Homo sapiens: one gene and its partners. The protein of the gene in region 4 purifies or fractionates together with the protein of the main gene of each other region. This does not show direct contact. Each region holds a gene or a part of one and is shown on either strand. Other genes may lie near its edges. The genes, in order: DSG4, DUSP14, LYG2 and SETDB2.

What was found.
Region 1: the proteins of SETDB2 (region 4) and DSG4 purify together in Homo sapiens (affinity purification with mass spectrometry; 2 studies listed by BioGRID and IntAct, with this or other methods). This does not show direct contact.
Region 2: the proteins of SETDB2 (region 4) and DUSP14 purify together in Homo sapiens (affinity purification with mass spectrometry; 2 studies listed by BioGRID and IntAct, with this or other methods). This does not show direct contact.
Region 3: the proteins of SETDB2 (region 4) and LYG2 purify together in Homo sapiens (affinity purification with mass spectrometry; 2 studies listed by BioGRID and IntAct, with this or other methods). This does not show direct contact.

What each region holds. Positions count from the first base shown.
Region 1 is NC_000018.10:31,403,381-31,408,572, forward strand, and holds part of DSG4 (desmoglein-4 isoform 2 preproprotein), read left to right. Parts: intron 1-35; coding exon 36-254; intron 255-2,696; coding exon 2,697-2,993; intron 2,994-5,192.
Region 2 is NC_000017.11:37,492,433-37,497,624, reverse strand, and holds part of DUSP14 (dual specificity protein phosphatase 14), read right to left. Parts: intron 1-5,192. UniProt on the Homo sapiens protein: Involved in the inactivation of MAP kinases. Dephosphorylates ERK, JNK and p38 MAP-kinases. Plays a negative role in TCR signaling by dephosphorylating MAP3K7 adapter TAB1 leading to its inactivation.
Region 3 is NC_000002.12:99,241,046-99,246,658, forward strand, and holds the end of LYG2 (lysozyme g-like protein 2 precursor), read right to left. Parts: intron 4,414-5,613; coding exon 4,217-4,413; intron 3,093-4,216; coding exon 2,954-3,092; intron 1,438-2,953; coding exon 1,319-1,437; 3' UTR 1,201-1,318; downstream 1-1,200. UniProt on the Homo sapiens protein: May act as a potent antibacterial protein that may play a role in the innate immunity.
Region 4 is NC_000013.11:49,484,878-49,490,069, reverse strand, and holds part of SETDB2 (histone-lysine N-methyltransferase SETDB2), read right to left. Parts: intron 4,441-5,192; coding exon 4,347-4,440; coding exon of another isoform or gene 4,276-4,346; exon of another isoform or gene 4,225-4,275; intron 1,781-4,224; coding exon 1,440-1,780; intron 1-1,439. Other genes in the region: SETDB2-PHF11 protein, read right to left, coding at 4,347-4,440. UniProt on the Homo sapiens protein: Histone methyltransferase involved in left-right axis specification in early development and mitosis. Specifically trimethylates 'Lys-9' of histone H3 (H3K9me3).

The DNA of each region.
Region 1 (5,192 bases), on a different chromosome or scaffold from region 4:
ATTTACCTCAACACCAATGACCCTTACTCTTTCAGATGGCTCTGGAAAAACAGCTACAGGAACCATATGTATTGAGGTTCCTGATATCAATGATTATTGTCCAAACATTTTTCCTGAAAGAAGAACCATCTGCATTGACTCTCCATCAGTCCTTATCTCTGTTAATGAACATTCTTATGGGTCTCCGTTTACTTTCTGTGTTGTTGATGAGCCACCAGGAATAGCTGACATGTGGGATGTCAGATCAACAAATGGTAAGTGAAACGTAAGCTTGTTTTTTGGACTTTAAGTCCAAAAGCAAAACAATTACCAAAAAATGTGGCAAGTCACTTAATAAAACATTCTACTTCTGTTTCCACAGTTCTTGCCATATTAACATTAAATGAAAAAAATATTTCATGTACACAGAGGATATTTGATAAAATTTTGAACTGAAATGAAATGAGTCAAAATGTTTCATTAATATTTAATTTACAAATAGTAGTGGATAAATACCAGTTTACCCATCATTTTGAGTAGGTAAAACGTTGAACCAATATTTATTCAGTTTAAAATAAACAGAACCCTTAACAAACTCATAAATTAAGAATGTCACAATTCCCTATTCTGAATAAATTCAGACAAATCACATAAATGTCTCTGAAACTCATATATCCCATAGATACATTTAAACATTTACTACTCACTTAGGAGCACATAAAATCAATTAAATTGTTTTTTACAGTAACTATGAGTTCAGACTTATTTTTAAGGGTAAAAATTTAAATCCAAATTGCTCAGTATTAGAGGAATGATTAAACAGAGTACATATTATTAAGATGTGTTAATATACAGCCATTAAAATTAGAATTATGCAAAGTATGTAGATACAAAAGAATGCATAAACCAAAGAAAGTAAAGTGAAAAACAGATCACGAAGTTGTATATGTATGTATCTTGACTATAACTACATACAATTGAATGGCTGACATCGATAAAAATTAAGAATAAATTTCAGATAACATAACATTTTATCTACCTTGCGTTCTTTTTCCTAAAACGTTAAGTGCATAATAAAAAAGAAAATGCTATGAGAGGATCTCATATGGGCTAAGATAGCTCCCCAATCTCATATTCATTTGGGGCTACAGGGAAAATTTCATGGGCTAGTCGGTGGCCATCAGACTACAGAGCCCAGGGTGAGAGGAAATACTTCCCACCTCTTTAAGGTCACCAAGCCCCTCTATTTACAGAATGGAGAAACCCTAAAATAAGGTGGGGAAAATACCACCAATAAAGTAAGAAATTAGGCAATTTGTTTTTACCATCAAACCTTTAGCTCTTTTCAACAAAACCACTTTAATATTTTTTAAAGTTAATCATGTTAAAGCAATTCCATTAATATCAAGTCAACTCTGAATTCACCATCTCCTATAAAGCTCAATAGCCCATTCATAAACAATAATAATTGCTAACCACTTTTTTCCTCATTCGGATCCTAGATATTATGATTACACATGTAAGAAAAAATGTTCTGCATGGAGGTATAATATTATAGCTATTACAGGTTTGCCAATAAAAAATATAACCACACTGGAGATGATATTCCTAGAGACCTGTTTCAATGCTTGCTGGTGTTTTAGAACAGAATGAATTTCACTTAATGTGCTGTGGCATTGCCTTATCTCATTTTTACCTTGTGCACAGGTTAGATTTTGGTGGACATAGCTGGCTTGCCATCTAGCTAACTGAGGATAATAAACCATCATAATAAAAAATATTGTGTGCTATGGATCAATCAGTTACTATTCATGGTTTAGCTGTAAATTTAATCATCTCAACACTCCTTGTATTAATAAATAAATTCCAATGAATATTTTAGACAATATGTTTTATGAAAATTCATAGGCAATGATAGCACAAAGAATTAGGAGAATGTGAACAATTTTAAATGAAAGGGCAACAATTTTGAGTAAGATACATATAAACAGTCTTAAGGAGGGTATTGTGTAAACTGTAATCCTAAATAGAAGACTTCTAATATTTTCTTTCAGCTCAATATTATTTATTCATTGGGCAAATATTTATTGAATGTATATTATATGCCAATTACTGTTGCTCTGGAAAGATGCAGCAAGGTCCTTGCCTGCATTATAGAAGTAGCAATCCAGCAGTAAGCAATACTTATTTAAAAATTAGTTATAAATGTTAAAAAAAAAAAGAAAGAAAGAAAAGTAAAAAAGGCCAGGCAGAATGGCTCATGCTTGTAATCCAAGCACTTTAAGAGGCCAAGGCAGGTGGATTGCTGGAGCCCAGGAGTTCAAGACCACCCTGGGCAATATGGCAAAACCCTGTCTCTACTAAATGTATATATATTAGCCAGGCATGGTGCCACACACCTGTAGTCCCAGCTTCTCAGGAGACTGAGGTGGGAGAATCACTTAAACCTAGGAATCCAAGGCTGCAGTGAGTCATGTTCGTGCCACTGCACTCCAGCCTGGGCAATAGGAATGAGACTCTGTCTCAAAAATAACAAGAATAATAATAATAATAATAAATTAAATAAATGTTAAAAAAAAGTACAAGGTGCTTTATGACTAAGAAAGCATGAAAAATCTAGTGTTTTAAGTCAATATTTGGTATTAGGGAGAGTTAACCACCCCCCTAGCCCACCAAGGAATTTCCATTTATTTTCTGTTTCCTCTCTTCCATTTCAGCTACCTCGGCAATCCTTACGGCTAAGCAGGTTTTATCTCCAGGATTTTATGAAATCCCAATCCTGGTGAAGGACAGCTATAACAGAGCATGTGAATTGGCACAAATGGTGCAGTTATATGCCTGTGATTGCGATGACAACCACATGTGCCTGGACTCTGGTGCCGCGGGCATCTACACAGAGGACATAACTGGTGACACGTATGGGCCTGTCACTGAAGACCAAGCTGGAGTTTCAAATGTTGGTCTTGGACCAGCAGGGATTGGCATGATGGTTCTGGGCATCCTGCTACTGATTTGTAAGTACTCAATTAAATCCTTCTTTTCAATAGTTCTTCAAAATAGGGCTGTTACGAGGCTCGCTGGGATGGTTAGGTTCATGGAGCCATTTCTTTTTGGTATCTCTAGCAATTTTTGAGTGCCTTAGAAATAAACAATGGGACTGACAAATATATGCGCTTAATCCACAATGATAACTAAGAAAGCCTAGGGTGAGTGACAGTCCTAAAAATGGGAAACACATGCAAATCACTACATATACTACCTAAAAGCACAAAACAAATCCCATCATGGAAATTTCCTTAAAATGCTTTAAGAGTAGAGAGGCAGAAGCAATTAAGTCCATGTGGAAAAGTTAGGACAATCTTTTGGAAAAGTGGATTTTGAGGTGAGCCTGAAAAGCTGAGGATTTTTTTTTTCTTTTTTTCTTTTTCTTTTTTTTGAGATGGAATCTTGCTCTATTGCCCAGGCTGGAGTGCAGTGGCGCAACCTCGGCTCACTGCAACTTCTGCCTCCCAGGTTCAAATGATTCTCCTGCCTCAGCCTCCCGAGTAGCTGGGACTACAGGCGCCCACCACCACGACTGGCTAATTTTTGTACTTTTAGTAGAGACGGGGTTTCACCATGATAGCCAGGATGGTCTTGAACTCCTGACCTCGTGGTCCACCTGCCTTGGGCTCCCAAAGTGCTGGGATTACAGGCATGAGCCACTGCACCCTGCTGAGGATTTCTTTTAAAGGAGGATGATGTCTAAGGAAATTTGAAAGGTAATCAAACACACACACACAAAAAAAAACCACACACACAAACAAAAGGGAGCAAGATATGGAAGAGCATAGCACACCTAGGAAGCAGAGAGGCAAAAGGGAGTCTGGGAGCCAGCATGGAGGCATGTTCATGACACACCAGGCATTCTGGGCTTCAGTACAATGGCACAGAAGAGTTGATGAGGGCTGATGAGCGCAGGTGACCCTGCGGTAGGAAGCAAGTAGAAGAGACTAGAACAGAGAATTAGCCTCTGGGCTCTGGGTGAGTGCCTAAACTAAGACTGGTCACAGAAGTGGAAAGATCACCAAACAAAAATTTCCCAAAAAGGGCCCTCCTTTCCCCATAGAGTTTTTTTAAACATATAGATCCTCAGAGGAAGAATACTTCATACATTTTAGGTTGCCCTTGCAATATTTAGGTTTCATGGGGATCAAAAGCTGGGTTCTAAAATTAAAGAGAAGTAAATTTGTCAAACTGTATTGTTGCTGTTTTCAGGGATGAGCACTAATTAAAATGTAATCATTTCAAGGCATAAAAAATAACAGCTGACTTTTGGTGAGGATTTCTTTTTTGAAATAATCTGTGAGGTTTCAAAGCTATGCAAAGATCATGAGTGATTCTCACAATGATATTAGACACATTTTCCCAGAATATAACTCTACAGCAATTGAGTAGTGGTTTCGGGTAAGCTTTGAGTTAGCGGTTCTCAACCCTAGTTGTACATAAGAATTAGTTAAAGGTCTTCCAAAATTACTCATACTAGAGTCATACTCAAGATGAGACCAAGCATCAGCATGTTCAAGCCCTTTGGTGAGACTAATGTGCAGTTCAGGGCTAAAAACCCAGTGCCAGCTGCATTTCCAGAACGTTAGCACTAAGAATTTCAAGACTTTTTCCTGACCCAGACAAAGAAAGCATGAGAGTTGTTCAACTGATGGATTGTAGAATAGGAGAGGAATACCCCTATGGACACTTGTTTTCAATGGAGAAGCCCATGGTCTATTTTAGGAGAGAGGGGGCAGTGTGATGGTAGTGGGAGGGATCTGAGCCCAAACCTATGTTCCCAAAGGGCCTCAAATTGACACTTTTGATGTTAGCTCCAAATGAGATTACACATACAGTAATTGTATTGGGTATGTGCTAAAAACACTTCATTTCATTTATTAGATAGTGCCTTTGTTAGAGTTCAGGCCTGCAATGGTACATGATCCAGCTCACATTTAAATTCACAGAAATATAGAATAGGCAGAACCATGGCCTAGGGGCTACCAATTTTAGTTTTAGTCCTTTTCCAGAAAATGCTATGGAAATGTATAACTTGACCTTTCACTGTTCATAGTGCAGATGGCAAAATTGCCAAATTAATTGTTGTAATAAGACTAAAGCTGATTTTGCAACTTTGATAGTCTCTTCTTTTGTATCTGTTTTTAATTTTTAATTTTTGTGGGTAC
Region 2 (5,192 bases), on a different chromosome or scaffold from region 4:
CCACATCCGGTTAATTTGTGTTTTTTGTAGAGACAGGGTTTTGCCATGTTGCCCAGGCTGGACTCGAACTCCTGGGCTCAAGCCATCCACCTCCCTAGGCCTCCCAAAGTGCTGGGATTACAGGCATGAGCCACCACACCAGGCCTCTATGTCCTTTTGACATTCATCAAAAAAGCAGTTTGAAGGCAGGGCGCGGTAGCGCATGCCTGTAATCCCAGCACTCTGGGAGGCCAAGGCAGGTGGATCACTTGAGGTCAGGGGTTTGACCAGCCTGGCCAACACAGTGAAACCCCATCTCTATTAAAAATACAAAAATTAGCTGGGCATGGTGGCATGTGCCCGTAATCCCAGCTACTCAGGAGGCTGAGGTAAGAGAATCACTTGAACCTGGAGGGCGGAGGTTGCAGTGAGCTGAGATTGTGCCACTGAACTCCAGCCTGGGGAAGAGACTCTGTCTTTAAAAAAAAAAAATGCAGTTTGAAGTAAAATTGATATTTAAATAGAGTTGGAAGGAAATGTACCAAATTCATGGGAGTGGTTGTCTCAGTGGGAAGGGAAGAGAAATGGCCCAAGGAAGCTCTGACTTGATAATACTTAATTTCTAAGCATTATAAAAGATAAAGTATGAGCAATGATTTTTGAATGGTGAGTTATGATGCTGGTTAATTTGCTTTCAATAATTTTCTTTTCTTTTTTTTTTTTTTTTTTTGAGACAGAGTCTTACTCTGTTGCCCAGGCTGGAGTGCAGTGGCTCAATCTCTGCTCACTGCAACTGCCTCGTCCTGGGTTCAAGCAATTCTCCTGCCTCAGTCTCCCAAGTAGCTGAGATTACAGGTGCATGCCACCACACCCGGCTAATTTTTTGTTTGTTTGAGATGGAATCTCGCTCTTTCACTCAAGCTGGATTGCAGTGGTATGATCTTGGCTCACTTGAACCTCCGCCTCCCAGGTTCAAGCAATTCTCTGTCTCAGCCTCTGGAGTAGCTGGGATTACAGGGGCCCACGACCACTCCCGGCTAATTTTTGTATTTTCAGTAGAGACGGGGTTTCACTATGTTGGTCAGGCTGGTTTCGAACTCCGGACCTCATGATCCACCCGCCTCAGCCTCCCAAAGTGCTGGGATTACAGGCATGAGCTACCGTGCCCGGCCTAACACCCGGCTAATTTTTACATTTTTATAAGAGATGGGGTTTCACCATGTTGGTCAGGCTAGTCTCGATTGAACTTTTGACCTCAAGTGATCCACCTGCCTCAGCCTCCCAAAGTGCTGGGATTATAGGCGTGAGCCACTGTGCCCAGCATAATTTTCTATATGATTTCAATTTCTAAAAGTAAAAAATATTTTTAATAGAAGAAAATTAACAACACATAGTTGTCGGTCCAAGCCCCCTCTCCACTTCTGGCCTGAGCCTGCCAGTGCTCTTTATATAGGAGCCAGGATAACACCAAAGATTTATAATGATGACATGAAGTGTGTCTTCATTATAAATGTTTTGTGTTTTATAATGAAACACAAAGATTTAAAAGATTTAGTTAAATCTAAGATTTAGATTTTAGCTAAATTGGCAAAATTCTTCATTATAAATCTCCAAATTTGTATGTAATTTGTATGTTGACAGTACTTCCAGATTTTATTTTTACAAGTGCTTCCTTAAAACTTAAAGCAGGCTGGGCGCGGTGGCTCATGCCTGTAATCCCAGCACTTTGGGGGTCCGAGGCAGGTGGATCACGAGGTCATGAGATCGAGACCAGCCTGACCAACATGGTGAAACCCTGTCTCTACTAAAAATAGAAAAATTAGCTGGGCGTGGTGGCATGCGCCTGTAATCCCAGCTACTCGGGAGGCTGAGGCAGGAGAATTGCTTGAACCTGGGAAGCGGAGGTTGCAGTGAGCCGAGATCGCGCCACTGCACTCCAGCCTGGTGATGGAGCAAGACTCCGTCTCAAAAAAAAAACAAAAAAACAAAAAAAACAAAACTTAAAGCAAGTTCACCTACTGGTCACTTTCCCAGGCAGGGAAGGCTGGTGCTTTGAAGGCGCTCTCTGCCACATAATGTTTACTAGTCAACAGAAGCAGCATGCTCTAGTTAGGGAGTTTTCTCATATGTACCCACACACTCAAAGACATAGGAGTCAAAACAAACAAACAAACAAACAAAAAAACTTGCCCTAGGTCATTGATGCTGAAACTGTTCTGGGACAAAGACAGAAGTAAACCCAGCAGTTGCATATGAACTTCAAAAGAACCTTCTCGTCCACTGAGGTTTCAACATGGCATGGGGTGTGAAAAGCTGACCCAACCGGACCTCTGGTTGCTCTAGGTTGGTGCAAGAACAGAATGGGACGTGCCCAGGTGAGCTGGGTGGGCTGCACATGAAAGGGCATGGCTGTGATCTCAGCCCTAGGCCTCCTCCCTCGCCCAGGCTGAGGCTGCCCCTGCCCTGCAACAGGTGGAAAATGGAGCTCCTTTGTGAAAGCTGCCCGCTGGAAGGCCGAAGGGGTGACAAAGAACACGACAGGGCTCCTCCCCCATCACTCAGATCAACAGGTTCTCATACTAACGACTTCTTACTCCTCCTCCTTTGGGTGTCTTTTCCTGAAAACTTCTAATTTATCCGCATGTGGTTTCTAAAATTATCATTATTTTAGAGAATCTGAAAAAAAATCTTTACTATAATGAGCAAAAAAGTCTTTGTGACTTATGTAAATAAAGACTGAAAATAGAGTGATTTAGCTATTTTCCAAGATGCTTTAGAGAAGAAATAAAAAGGATCTACAAATCTCAGTCTTTGTGCTAGTGTTCTTCCATCATCCCTCCAGCTAAAAAGGATTCCCCTGAGGTATTTTGTAAACCTACAGAATTGCGTAACATTCTGCTCTAAGGGCAGAAACACAGCACATAATACTAGGCACATGGTAAGTACTCAATGAACACCTGAATTTAACGGCTGCCCTCAGGTGAACTGCCCACCTCTCCCCACACCCTCCCTCCTGCTCCTTCTCTTTCTCACATTCTCTCACTCTCTCTCACACACACACTTCAAATCCAGCTGGCAAAACTAAACACGGGCAATCAAAGTGAGCCTGGTAACTGTCTGTTCACAAAGCAGGAATTCAAGCTGGATGTGGCACATGCTGCAGTCCCAGCTTTTAGGAGGCTGAGGTGGGAGGATCCCTTGAGCCCAGCAGTTCAAGGCCAGCCTGAGCCACACTGCTAGACTCCATCTCTTACAAAGAAAATGAACAAAAACGACAAAAACTCTGCTCTAAGCTACTTCTACTTTCTCAGGCAAAGGAAAATTTGGAGAAAAATACATTTAAAAGATTTAAAGGCTGGGTGCGGTGGCTCACGCCTGTAATCCCAGCATTTTGGGAGGCCGAGGCGGGCGGATCACGAGGTCAGGAGATTAAGACCATTCTGACTAACATGGTGAAACCCCGTCTCTACTAAAAATACAAAAAATTAGCCGGGCATGGTGACGGGCACCTGTGGTCCCAGCTACTAGGGAGGCTGAGGCAGGAGAATGGCATGAACCTGGGAGGCGGAGCTTGCAGTGAGCCGAGATCGCGCCACTGCACTCCAGCCTGGGCGACAGAGTGAGACTCTGTCTCAAAAAAAAAAAAAAAAAGTTTAAAAGAGTCATTGATTCCTGTAGCACAGAGTCTGTGGTTACTTTGGAATTGCCAAGAAGTATGAGTTAGGGTCTGTGCACAGTGCCTCTTAAGGAGTCTCATCCTCAGAGGGTACTTTAACAAGGATAGGCCTGGGTTCCTGCACACTACACTGTCCTACACATTTAGGGCTGGGCACAATGGAAGCATTCACCAGAGGCAGGATTCATTCAAGAGCCTTAAAAAACATCTAGGTACTAGCCACTTATTTTTAGTACTTCATTTTGCATATTTAAAATTTCCTGTAACTACTCATCTGTTCCAAAAAAAAAAAAAAAAGATTGATGAAAGGATTCCATTAGATATTTGTCAACCAAACACAGTGGGAAAACCATTTCTGGTATTTGGGTGGTTAGTCCAAACCATATAACTAAATAAAAATACGCTAGCACATGACAGGCCAGGGATCGGACTACCCAGGGACCTTTATTCATTCATTCAGAAAATATTCAAGCATAATTGTGGTTAAACAGCAAATACAGTGACTTACAAACTCAAGGCTGACACCACTGAAGGAATGTAAATTGGTACAACCACTTTGGAAACCAGGTATCAACTAGTAAAGCTGAAGGTATGCACACCTGACTCAGGGCTGTTCATAATTGCCCCAGACCAGAAACAACCCAGATGTCCATCAACAGTGGAAAGGTAATTTGTGGTATGTTCATAAGACAAAAATGTACTAACTGGGCTGGGTGTGGTGGCTCACACCTGTAATCCCAGCACTTTGGGAGGCCCAGGCAGGAGGATCCCTTGAGCCCAGGAGTTCAAGACCAGCCTGGGCAATATAGTGAGACCTTGTCTCTAAAAAAATTAAAACACAAAAACTACAGGCATAGGCAACGATATGGATAAATCTTTTAAAATAGCATGCTGCAGAAATTTAAAAAATTATATATGTGCGTGTGTATATACATACATACACACACACATACATACACATACACACACACACACACGATGCCGGCCAGAAGGAAGGATTCACAAGAGTATCTACTTTTAGTTTGCACTGAGGTTAAAAACAAGCAAAATAAAACTATGTCAATTAGGGATTTATATTTAGGGGATAAAAACTATAGAAAAGAAGGAAATGATTTCCATAAAAGTCAGGGTAGTTTCTGGCTAGGACCTCTGGGGGAGGGAGAGAGTGTGGAGTCAGATTCTTGACCTGCAAGACAGTTACACTTATGTTTTCGTTAAAATAATCCATCAAATTATCCATTTGTTTTAGACACTTTTTTACATAATTCACAATTCAATAAATCTAATGTTGATTTCTGGGAATTCAGAACCATGACAACAATTCTGGCCAACTCTCTCTGAATGTCACTATTTGCCTGTCAGCTTCATAAGGTCAGAGACCGACCTTACTTGCCTTCTTCCTCTGTATTCAGGCACAGCACCTTTAGCATGGTAAAAGTCCTCGGTAAATGTATAATATATAAATCCACAGAATCCTGACATGAATTTTGTTTTAACCCATCCATTTCCTGAAATTACCGGTTTGAAGGGTGCCCAC
Region 3 (5,613 bases), on a different chromosome or scaffold from region 4:
ATTTACTTGGCTTTCTCCAAGAGGGCTCAGAGGCAGGTGTGTATGATTTTGATTCCTTCTCAGAAACAGAAGTGATGGACTGAAACATTCATTGAACATCTCCAAAGGGAGTTAAAGGCCCAGCAGGGCCACAGTGTCACACGTCCACTTTACACTCCAACGTGTTATCACTTGTGTCCTCTCCTGACTATGGAAGTAAAGGCCACAAACAGCACACAGTTTCCTTCCAGAGAGTTGTCTCTTCTCCATTGTAGGTAGTGTGAGCAAGACCAAGGTAGCAAAATAGCCAAAGGGTAGGTTTGTATGTGACCCAAGATAAATAGCTCCGAACCTCTCCTGGCACTATGAAAGTGACGCAGAATGAAGACATAATCAGAAACAGGTGTTTGGAGTACATATATGAGGATACTGGTGAGGGTGCTAATTCATTTGCTTACTATGGATGCTGTAAAGTATGGTTAACCCATTCCTGCTACCCAGACCCCAGAGTTGCCTGGTGTCTCTTCATCTCCTTGACCTTCTTAGTTTGTTCTGTTAGCCTTCCAGTAATTTCTTTTTAATGCTTAAAATTTCTATAAGTGGTTACTTTTGCTTGCAACCAAAGAACCATAATTGATTTGGGTCCTACATGCTTATCTTCAGCCATGTTTTGTGAGGGATGGACCCCGTGAAAGAAAGCGTGTGGCAGCAACTGCTGAAAATAAGAAAAGCCAGTCCCTGGATCTTCACAGACAAAAGAAAACACAGGAGGTTGCTGTGGGTTTGAAGGACTTGGTGTATCTAACTTGAATGACAGCTTCACCTCAGTTGGCTCTCAGTTTCCCATGAAGCTAGAATTCCATCCCTATTTCTTCCATTGTCCCATGGATTGGCTGGCTTACGAGTCAGGAACTTCTCATAAGCAAAGCCTGAGGGCTCTGGGCAGATACTGGAAAAAAGACAAAGGCTCGGGTAAGGCTTACTTAACTTGTTAGCAATTCTGGTAGACAGGGAGTAGGTGGGCATTGGAATCACAGGCTAAAATGAAGCCTGGCTGGAATACCTAGGGACCATTTGCCATGATATTCACATTTACTGCAAAGTAATTATATATATGTCTATGTCCGTTTCCTAGGAACCATATTGTGAACTGGATGGATTTCTTTTATTTTTCTTTCCTTTTTTCAATGCTTATTTTCATTCAGAAAATTGGGAAATGAATTTTCTTTCATGATTTTAATCATTTCTTTGCCAGTGTTGTATACAACACATTCACGTAAAACTCTCAAAGGCGGCCATCTGAGCACTCTGCCAACCTGGCCCACCCACAGAGCTTTGCCTAGAAGCTTTGTCTTTTATAGAACTTAGCTCGAGCAATGATATCATTGACGAAGTCATTGTCTATGTCCGATGGGGTGGCAATCGCTTCAATTCCTGACTTAAAAGCTGAGAGACCACCTGAAATGAAACACAGAGAATTAGGCTCAAATATTAACTTTCAACAGAAATAAGCAATGAGCATTGCCAAGATGTTAGCTTTCCAGGCAAATCTTCCAAAGCAGGCAGTCCCAAATCCTCCTCCCTCTCCCTCCCTTTCTGAAAGGACGTGCTATCCCAAGAATCACTGGGAAAATTCCAGATTGCTTTCTTTCTCTTTTTCCAAAGTCTTTGGTTTTTCTTGTTGCAAAAATCAGATTTGCTTTTTTATGTAATCCAGGCCTGGCAGAACTAGACTCCCAGTACATCCTCTGCTGAAAATGCTTGTAACATTCTCTCATTTATTCAATAATTCACTCATCTATTCACTCACTCATTTATTCATTCAGGAAATGTTTTCAAGCACCTACTATGTGCCAGGAGAGGTGCCACACTGACTGCAAGGTACCCAAGACACACTTATTTCTTTGGGTATGTGTACATATGCATGTGTGTGCTATTTTACCCTAGAATTTTATCTCTAGTAGTTATGTATGTGTTTAACATAATTGTGCTCTGCTCTGATATCCAGAGAGGAAGATGCCTGGTCCTGATCCCTGCCTTCAAGGACCTTGAAGTAGAGACTAGAAACTGTTCTGATTAAGGCCGTTAGAGTGTGGAGGACATAACATTGGCCAATAGGAGGCAAACCTAATAGGAATTGATGTGGTTGGGTGTGAAGAGAGAAGGAACCAGAGAGCCTAAGAAAGCAATCTGGTTTTCAGGCTGGGATGACTGGCTATATTATGGTGCCTCCAAGACATGTAAAATGCAGAAGAAAGAGCAAATTTATAGTGGGAAGTTAGTGAGTTAATTCCATCTGGGAGATGCTGAACTTGAGGGGGCCTGTGGTCAGCCAAGCAGAGATTTCCACTTGGATATATAGCACCTGAAGTCCCGAAAATACTCACAGAGTAACATTGTTCAGACAATTTGGAAAGTTGTTGACAGTTTCTTATAACAGGAAAAAACCTATGAGAGGTAGGCAAACAGATAGATAGATAGATAGATAGATAGATAGATAGATAGATAGATAGATAAATTTTTTTTTGAGAGATGGGGTCTCACTCTGTCTCCCAGGCTGGAGTGCAGTGATGTAATCAATGCTCACTGCAGCCTTAACCTCCCAGGCACAAGCAATCCTCCTGGCTTAGCCTCCTGAGTAGCTGGGACTGTGTGTCACCATGCCCAGCTTTTTTTTTTTTTTTTTTTTTTTTTGTAGAGACAGGGTCTCACTATGTTTCAAGGTATCACTCAATAGCTCAGTAAGCAATGAATAAGAACCCCAACATTCTGCAGAAGAGGAAATGGAGGTTGAGGATGGAGGACCTCTCAAAGTAACTCAGTGGTTCAGGGAATGCAAATGCAGCCTCTAGACAGCTCCTCCCAGGGCCACTGCTGACCCCGTGGAAATGCTCCCAGGGAGTCTCGGGTCACACTGGCCTTCAGTGGTCTCATTCATTGCTCATTTAAACAAAGTACTCAGAATACAGCCTACCTTTGAGGTGCTGAGCAACACTCCACGTGGGGAATTTTTTCTGGATTGCCTTAATTCTCTCTGTTAGAATCCCAGTAGCCTGTGAAAGGTGCTCTTTGCTATCCCAGGCACCGACAGGGTGGTACGTTTGTTTATCAAGCTAGAAAATTCAGATAATAAAGTCAGCATCTGGATGAGGTAACACATTTTTTCTGCCATTCCTAATTTCCTCTCCTGGTATTCAAGTCATAGATACCGGCCTTTATCCCCAAAGAGTCAATTCTATTGTTCTTTCTTTCATATAGATGAGAGTCAGAGAAACAAAGTAAGGTTTGGGAGAAATGGACATGGTATAGTTTTAGCTAAACATTCTAATATACAAAAAAAAAATTTAAGTTGTTTTGAAACAAATAACACCCAAAGTCTACACATTTATAGTAATAAATAATTATCCAGCTAATTCAGATAAAAATTTGTTTCTAACTGGGAAGGCCAGAAGTCTGTATTTCTACAGACAATTTAAAATCGAGCCTGGAAGCAAATATCCAGATAATTTGGATCCCCTTCCTCCAGTTTACCCAAAGGAACAAGTTGTTTCAAGTAGGGCACAGTTATACCATGTTTTGATCCACATGGATGAAATTTACTACTTCATGAACCCCAAGAGGACACCTGTAACAATAATGCTATTTATAAGATTTTCTCAGTTTTAGTGTATTACATATTATTTATTGCAGAATGGTAGTTATGAAACTCCTAAAATACTTTTTAAAATATATCTAATAATGAATAAGCCTTGAATAAAATAAAAAGATGTGTTACAGAAATCCCAGATCAAATTATGCTGGAGTGGCCGGGCACAGTGGCTCAAGCTTGTAATCCCAGCACTTTGGGAGACTGAGGTGGGTGGATCACCTGAGGTCAGGAGTTCAAGACCAGCCTGGCCAACAAGGTGAAATCCCGTCTCTACTAAAAATACAAAAAATTAGCTGGGCATGGTGGCGTGTGCCTGTAATCCCAGCTACTCAGGAGGCTGAGGGAGGAGAATCACTTGAACCCGGGAGTGGAGGTTGCAGTGAGCCGAGATCACGCCATTGCACTCCAGCCTGGGTAACAAGAATGAAACTCCATCTCAAAAAAAAAAAAAAAATTATGCTGGAGTACCTGTAGCCAGATGCCAGGGTATTTTGGGGCTTGGAAGCACTGCAAATGGATTTCTAGTTCAGGTTGAGCTTCTGTGAGGAGGGATGCAGTGGGGCTGATAGAAAGTTTCTAGCTAAATACCTGCATCAAGCCAAATTTAAGTCCCCTGTGGTCCCAGCCGTCTTGCAGGACAGATCCGCCATGGCTTTCCCTGGAGATGATGGCTGCGATGACAGCAGGGTCCACGCAATGTCTCTGCCCGACTTCTTTGATCAGAGTCTGGTAAGGTTTTATGGCCCTCAAATCCATCTCAGCAAACATTTCAGAACCACGGATCCCTACGTCAATAGAAAAGAAACTGTTTTTCCGGGCATGGTAGTGTGTGCCTGAAGTCAGTTCCTGCTACACAGGAGGCTGAAACAGGAGGATTGCTTGAACCCAGGAGGAGTTCGAAACCAGCCTGGGCATCATAGTGAGAGCCCATCTCTAATTAAAAAAAAAAAAAAAAAGAATTTAAAGTTAAAAAAAGAAAAGAAACTGTTTCTTCTACTTCAGAAGAAAACCATTTTTAAAAATTTGCTAAGTTAGCCACAGCCTCTGATCACTGCTAATGACTTGGGACAACCATTCTAAGACATCCTTTTGATCTCTGACTGCAGAAACAAACAGATCCACAACCCCCAACAGGTGTCGCTTCTGCTCTGTTTCTCCTTCAAATTGCTCATGCCTGTAATCCCAGCACTTTGGGAGGCCGAGGTGGACAGATCACTTGAGGTCAGGAGCTCAAGACTAGCCTGGCCAACATGGTGAAACCCCATCTCTACTAAAAATACAAAAATTAGCTGGACTTGGTGGCAGGCACCTGTAACCCCAGCTACTCAGGAGACTGAGGCAGGAGAATCGCTTGAACCTGGGAGGTGGAGATTGTAGTGAGCCGAGATCATGCCATCGCACTCCAGCCTGGGTGACAAAGCAAGACTCTGTCATACACACAAAAAAAATTCTGCCACACTAGTGCACTGGGAAGCCTGTTGTACTAGGAGTTAGCCAATGCATGTTTTAGCCTGGCTCCGCCACTAGTTGGTTCTGTTCTATTGGGAAGTATTCCCCTCCTTGCTGAGTCTTTGGGCTCTGATTTGTAAATTTGAGGGGTTGGGGTCTGATGTGACCTTGTGGTTGCTGCCAGCTCCGACACTCTAAAACCAGGATAACGTGATGAAGACGACTTTGGAACAGTATTGCTTCAAATGGTCATGTGTAACATGAAGCAAACACAGCAGCACCACCCAAAAAACAAAGCCAGAGTCTAATATTTATTCAAGCAGTAGTTTCAATACATGGAAATAAACACAGCTGGACAAAGTTTGGAAAGAATGGGGGTGGAAAATGAAAAGAAGCTGGTTGTTAGATTGGTCAGGATTGTGGTTTTTGCTCATTTTTAATTTTGATACTATTGTCATAATGATGATTATACCTTTTCAAAATTAAGTGACTTCCTAAGAAAGAATCTGAAAACGATGAAAGGGGGAAGCCAGTCA
Region 4 (5,192 bases):
CCTGACCTCAAGTGATCTGCCTGCCTTGGCTTCCCAAAGTGCTGGGATTACAGGCATGAGTCACATCACGCCTGGCCCAATATACTGTTAATTTGAAAAACAAAGTATAGAACAGTGAATATAATATGCTATGTTTTATGTAAAAAAAAAAGGGGGGGGGGGCGGGAGAAATAAGGCCAGGTGCGGTGGCTCACACCTGTAATCCCAGCACTTTGGGAGGCCGAGGCAGGCAGATCACTTGAGGTCAGGAGTTCAAGACCAGCCTGACCAACATGGTGAAATTGTGTCTCTACTAAAAATGCAAAAATTAGCCAGGCATGGTGGTGCACACCTGTAATCTCAGCTACTCAGGAGGCTGATGAGGAGAATCGCTTGAACCTAGGAGGCGGAGATCGCAGTGGGCCGAGATCACACCACTGCACTCCAGCCTGGTGACAGAGCAAGACTCGGTCTCAAAAAAAAAAAAAAAAAAAGAATAAATATGATGACCTACAGAGAGAAGGTGGAGTCGGGGCATGGGAACAGGAGCACAGTACTTCTCAAGGTATGGCTTTTTTTTTTTTTTTTAAACAAAAAGTTTTCACAAAGTAAGTTTAATATGAAGATGTACAGAACCTAATTTTTACATCACTGTAACAAACAAGCCTTTTGGAGAGGAGATATTGTAAGCAACAAATTTCTTTGCTGAAGATAGCCATTATGTATCGTCGTTCCGAGGCTTCTAAATAGATGATACCATTTCCTCATATTAGCACTATTCCAGTATTGCTCTGTTGCCCACTAGCCGCCATCTCCACACATTCATCATGTGATTCATTAACGCCTGTAATCTCAGCTACTCAGGAGGCCGAGGCATGAGAATTGCTTGAACCCCAGAAGCGGAGGTTGCAGTGAGCTGAGATTGTGCCACTGGTGACAAAGTGAGACTCTGTCTCAAAAAAAACAAAAAATAAAAACCAAAAAACCAGTATATTGTGGCAATCTTTCCATATTAATACACCATTAAATCCCTGCAGTATTCTTTGGACATATCTGCCACCATTTAACTTCACTGATAACTTCCTAGCCATACATTTTTTTCAACTCAGGTAAGTGAGCTTATTTAAATCTGATATATTTAAATACTTTTCTTATACACCATTTCTTACAGTTTTTTAAAAGCAAATGTTTACTATGTGCTAGGCACTGTTCTAAGCACTTAATGTTAATTCATTAGATTCTCATAACATCCTGAGACAGTTATCATTTATCCCTGTATTACAGAGGTAGAAAATGAGGTATCAGAGGTCAAGTAAAACATCCAACTGTATACAAGTGGAGGACTGGAATTCTAACCAGATGGTCTGACTTTAGAGTCTGTTTATTTTCCTCATAATTTTGTTAAGTAGCATAGAAAAAAACAGTTGTTCAGAAATAGGAATCTCAGCCCTTATACTCACATTAAGGAAGCGGCCGACATTTCCTTCTTTTGTGGCATCCAATAAAAACACATTCCCTTTATTGAACTTTGTTAGAGAATCAGATGAAGTATTCTTGGTTTCACTTAGCAACTCTTCATCACAAAATACCTGCTGTCTTTGACATGCTGTAGATCGTCCCTCTTGGGGTTTCTGAATTTGAACCTCAATTGCCTTTTTAATATTCTGATTATCCAATGTGGTCGCCTGGTTACATCTGCTCCTTGGTGGAGTTTCTTCTCTATATTTAGTTATATCTATCACATCTGATTCAATCAGCAGATTATCTTCAAACTCATCAACATGGTTTGAACTTGAGTCCTCTAATAGACATTTTGGAAGGAAACATCAGGAAATATACTTGCTGAGCAATAGTGCTGAAATTAACAACACTAATTAGATGCTAGGTGCTTTAATTATCGATCCTTACAATGTGTTAGGCAGGTAGTATTATTTTAATTGTATAAAGGAAACTTTCTCTGAGGGATTAAGGAATTCATCTGACCCACAATAACGAGAACTGGGGTAACAAACCTAGAAATGTTTGAATCCCAAAGTCTGCCTTCTTTCTACTACGTAACAATGCCTTTTTATGAATCTACATCTTGCTTCTTCATTATTATATTTAATCTCTACTCATAATAAACTGACTTTCTTCTCTTTAATTCTGGAATCTGCACTTAAGTATATTCTAAACAAATGTAACAGAGTGGGTGTTTTGGAGGCACTCTAGGCCTTTATGCTGCCAATAAAAGGCCTAACCCTGACAGAGACACCTTCCACAAGTCCCAGCAGTGACAACTGTATTGCTAGGGGTTTTGCACATATTAGTGTTTGGTGTTTTACTAGATGACCATTCAATAATTACACCTTTGTAAACAATAATCCTTTAAAAGCAGATGCACTGCTTAATCGTTTTTCTTATCCAATAAGGAAAATAATTTTTTGAGAGTATTCAAGAGTATGAATATGGCTGGGCATGGTGGCTCATGCCTGTAATCCCAGCACTTTGGGAGGCCAAGGCAGGAGGATGCTTGAGGCCAGGAATTCAAGACCAGCCTGGGCAACAAAGTGAGACCCCATCTCTACAAAAAATTTTAAAAAAAAGAAATTAGCCAACAAGGGGGTGTGTGCCTGTAGTCCTGTTTGCTCAGGAGACTGAGGTGGGAGGACTGTTTGAGCCCAGGAATTGGAAGGTACAGTGAGCTATGATCCCACCACTGCACTCCAGCTTGGGTGACAGAATGAGTCGCTGTCTCTCTTTAAAAAAAAAAGAAAAGATATGAATGCATGTCAGATGGAGTAAGTATAAATTACTTACTTTAAAAGAGCCACAAAGCTATTTGGACCACCTAATTCAATGGCGCAAAGAAATTATACTTGTCTAAAATTGAGGCTCTTGATTTAATCATCACTGTTGTTGCTGGCTGCTGTTCCTATATGTACTTATATTTTAATCATGGGTTACGTGTAAGCCATAATACAACTTTGGATTTTTTTATACAAAAAGTATGTAGCTTTTGACTTTTGGAGTACCCGCTATATATATTGTAGCAGTCAATGAAAAGGGCAAAAGAACCAAAAGCAACGGTATGCACTGTGGCTCACATGCATGATAAAATAAATATAATACACAAAATCCCCTTTTTTGATAGACCTTTTCTATCAAGGAACTGCCATGTCTCCTCCAATCTCCATCCTTTAATATTAGGTGGAGAGCTGCGGTTGCAGGGGGGAAGAGACAGCAGTGGCTCACCAATTCTTCACAAACGGATATCTCTCAGCAATGTCTCCTTGTGAAGGACACAGTGAAATGCAAAAGTACCAAAAACAATGTTTGTCCAGTTGTAATATTAACTATGGCAAGGACTAGTAACTCTGAAACACAAGGACTCAGGGTGGCAATATTTTAGCCTTTTGCCAGAGTCAAGCTGAGTATGCTCTGCGGCAGTATTGGCTAGGCAATTGCAGGAAAGTGATGTGTGTTTATTTTTAAAGGCGTCTACAAAGAGTTTGAAAGTGGCTGCTTTGCACAATGGTTCCAAAGCCACGGACAACACCTGTGCACCACAAAGACTCAAGAGTTTTCCAGCCCACCCCTCTTGTCATGCATCAAGTCACTACTGGCAATTAGACCAGAGGTCAGCAAAGTTCTCCTGCAGAAGGCAAAATAGCAAATATTTCAGGCTTTGCTGGCCATGTGGTGGTCTCTGTTGTGATTATTCAACTCTTGCTGTAATGTTGAAGCAGACAATATATAATGTAAATTGGCTGTATTCCAATAAAACTTACATTTTATTTTTTTTTTTGAGACAGGGTCTTGTTCTATCGCCCAGGCTGCAGTACCGTGGCACAATCATAGTTCACTGTAACCTCAAACTCCTGACCTCAACAATCCTCCCACCTCAGCCCCCTGAGTAGCTAAGACCTCAGGTGTGCACCACCACACCTGGCTATTTTGTTGTTGTTGAGACAAGATCTTGCTACATTGCCCAGACTCATAGCCTCAAGCAGCCCTCCTGCCTTGGCTTCCCAAAGTGCTAAGATTACGGGCGTGAGCTACTGCACCTGGCCAAAACTTTATTTCTGGACACTAAAATTGTAATTTCATATAATTTTCAAGTGTCAAAATATTATCACCTTCTGATTTTTTTCAACTATTTAAAAACATAAATATCATTCTTAGCTCACATGCCATACTGAACAGGTAGAGGGCCAGATTTGGCCCACACACGATATTTTGCTGATCTCTTATGTAGACAAGTTGTAACCTTTCTGACAAATGCAGCATGTTTATTATGGAATCTAAGAAAATGAGCTACAGGTATTGAGCAAGAGACAGAGAAACAGGCAGAAGAGGTAGGCATTCACAGAAGAAACAAAGCCTACTTTGTGCTCCCTTGGTTTTAGAGTTCAGATGCTCTCGGGGTGGTTTAAATCCATCATTATCTTCTGGAGTGACAGACTCCGAGGAAACAAATTCCTTAAAAAAACAAGGAAGATGTCTTTACTTTCCAGGTCAGGCAAAAGTATTTAGCAGTTAGGCCTCTTTCATCAAGTGTCAATCATCATAGGCTATATGTACTAGATTCGTTTTGAAAAGCCTCAAAGCTGATATCATAAGGAGTCTTTAGACTAATGGAGTCAACAAGTGTCATCCCCTTTGACTCTGTTCTACTTCTAGGTGCTTTATTAAGCCACAGCTATAAAGACTGTCAAGAAATTCTTTGGGAATTAAAATCTTAATGCATCCCTGTCTGTATCCCCCAATTCTAATCATCTCAGTACTTAGAAAGTGTTATTACTAGATTATAAATTTGCCTTCAACTGTAAGTTGTGTAAAGATGAAAAACACTCATTGGCTAGTTTCTACTTCAAAGAAAGGTTAACGAATGTGATAATGCTTACACATTGTAGACACTGCAGTCACTTTAAGTAGTAATGATAACTTTAAAAGAGGCGTATATACTCAGCACAATGCTTGGCAACCAACTAAGTATTCAATACACATTGACCATATTATTACTATGAAAGTTCTCAGCATGTGAATGGTCAACATGTATTGAGCACTTAGTTGGATGCTAAGCAAGTTGCTGATGCTTATCTCATTTAATCCTCATAATTCTGAAACATATACTATTACCTTTTTACAGATAAAAGAAATGTATGTATGGAGATACCACCCAGCTAGCACGCAGCAGAGCTGGAGGTTACACCTGGGTCTGTGTGACACCA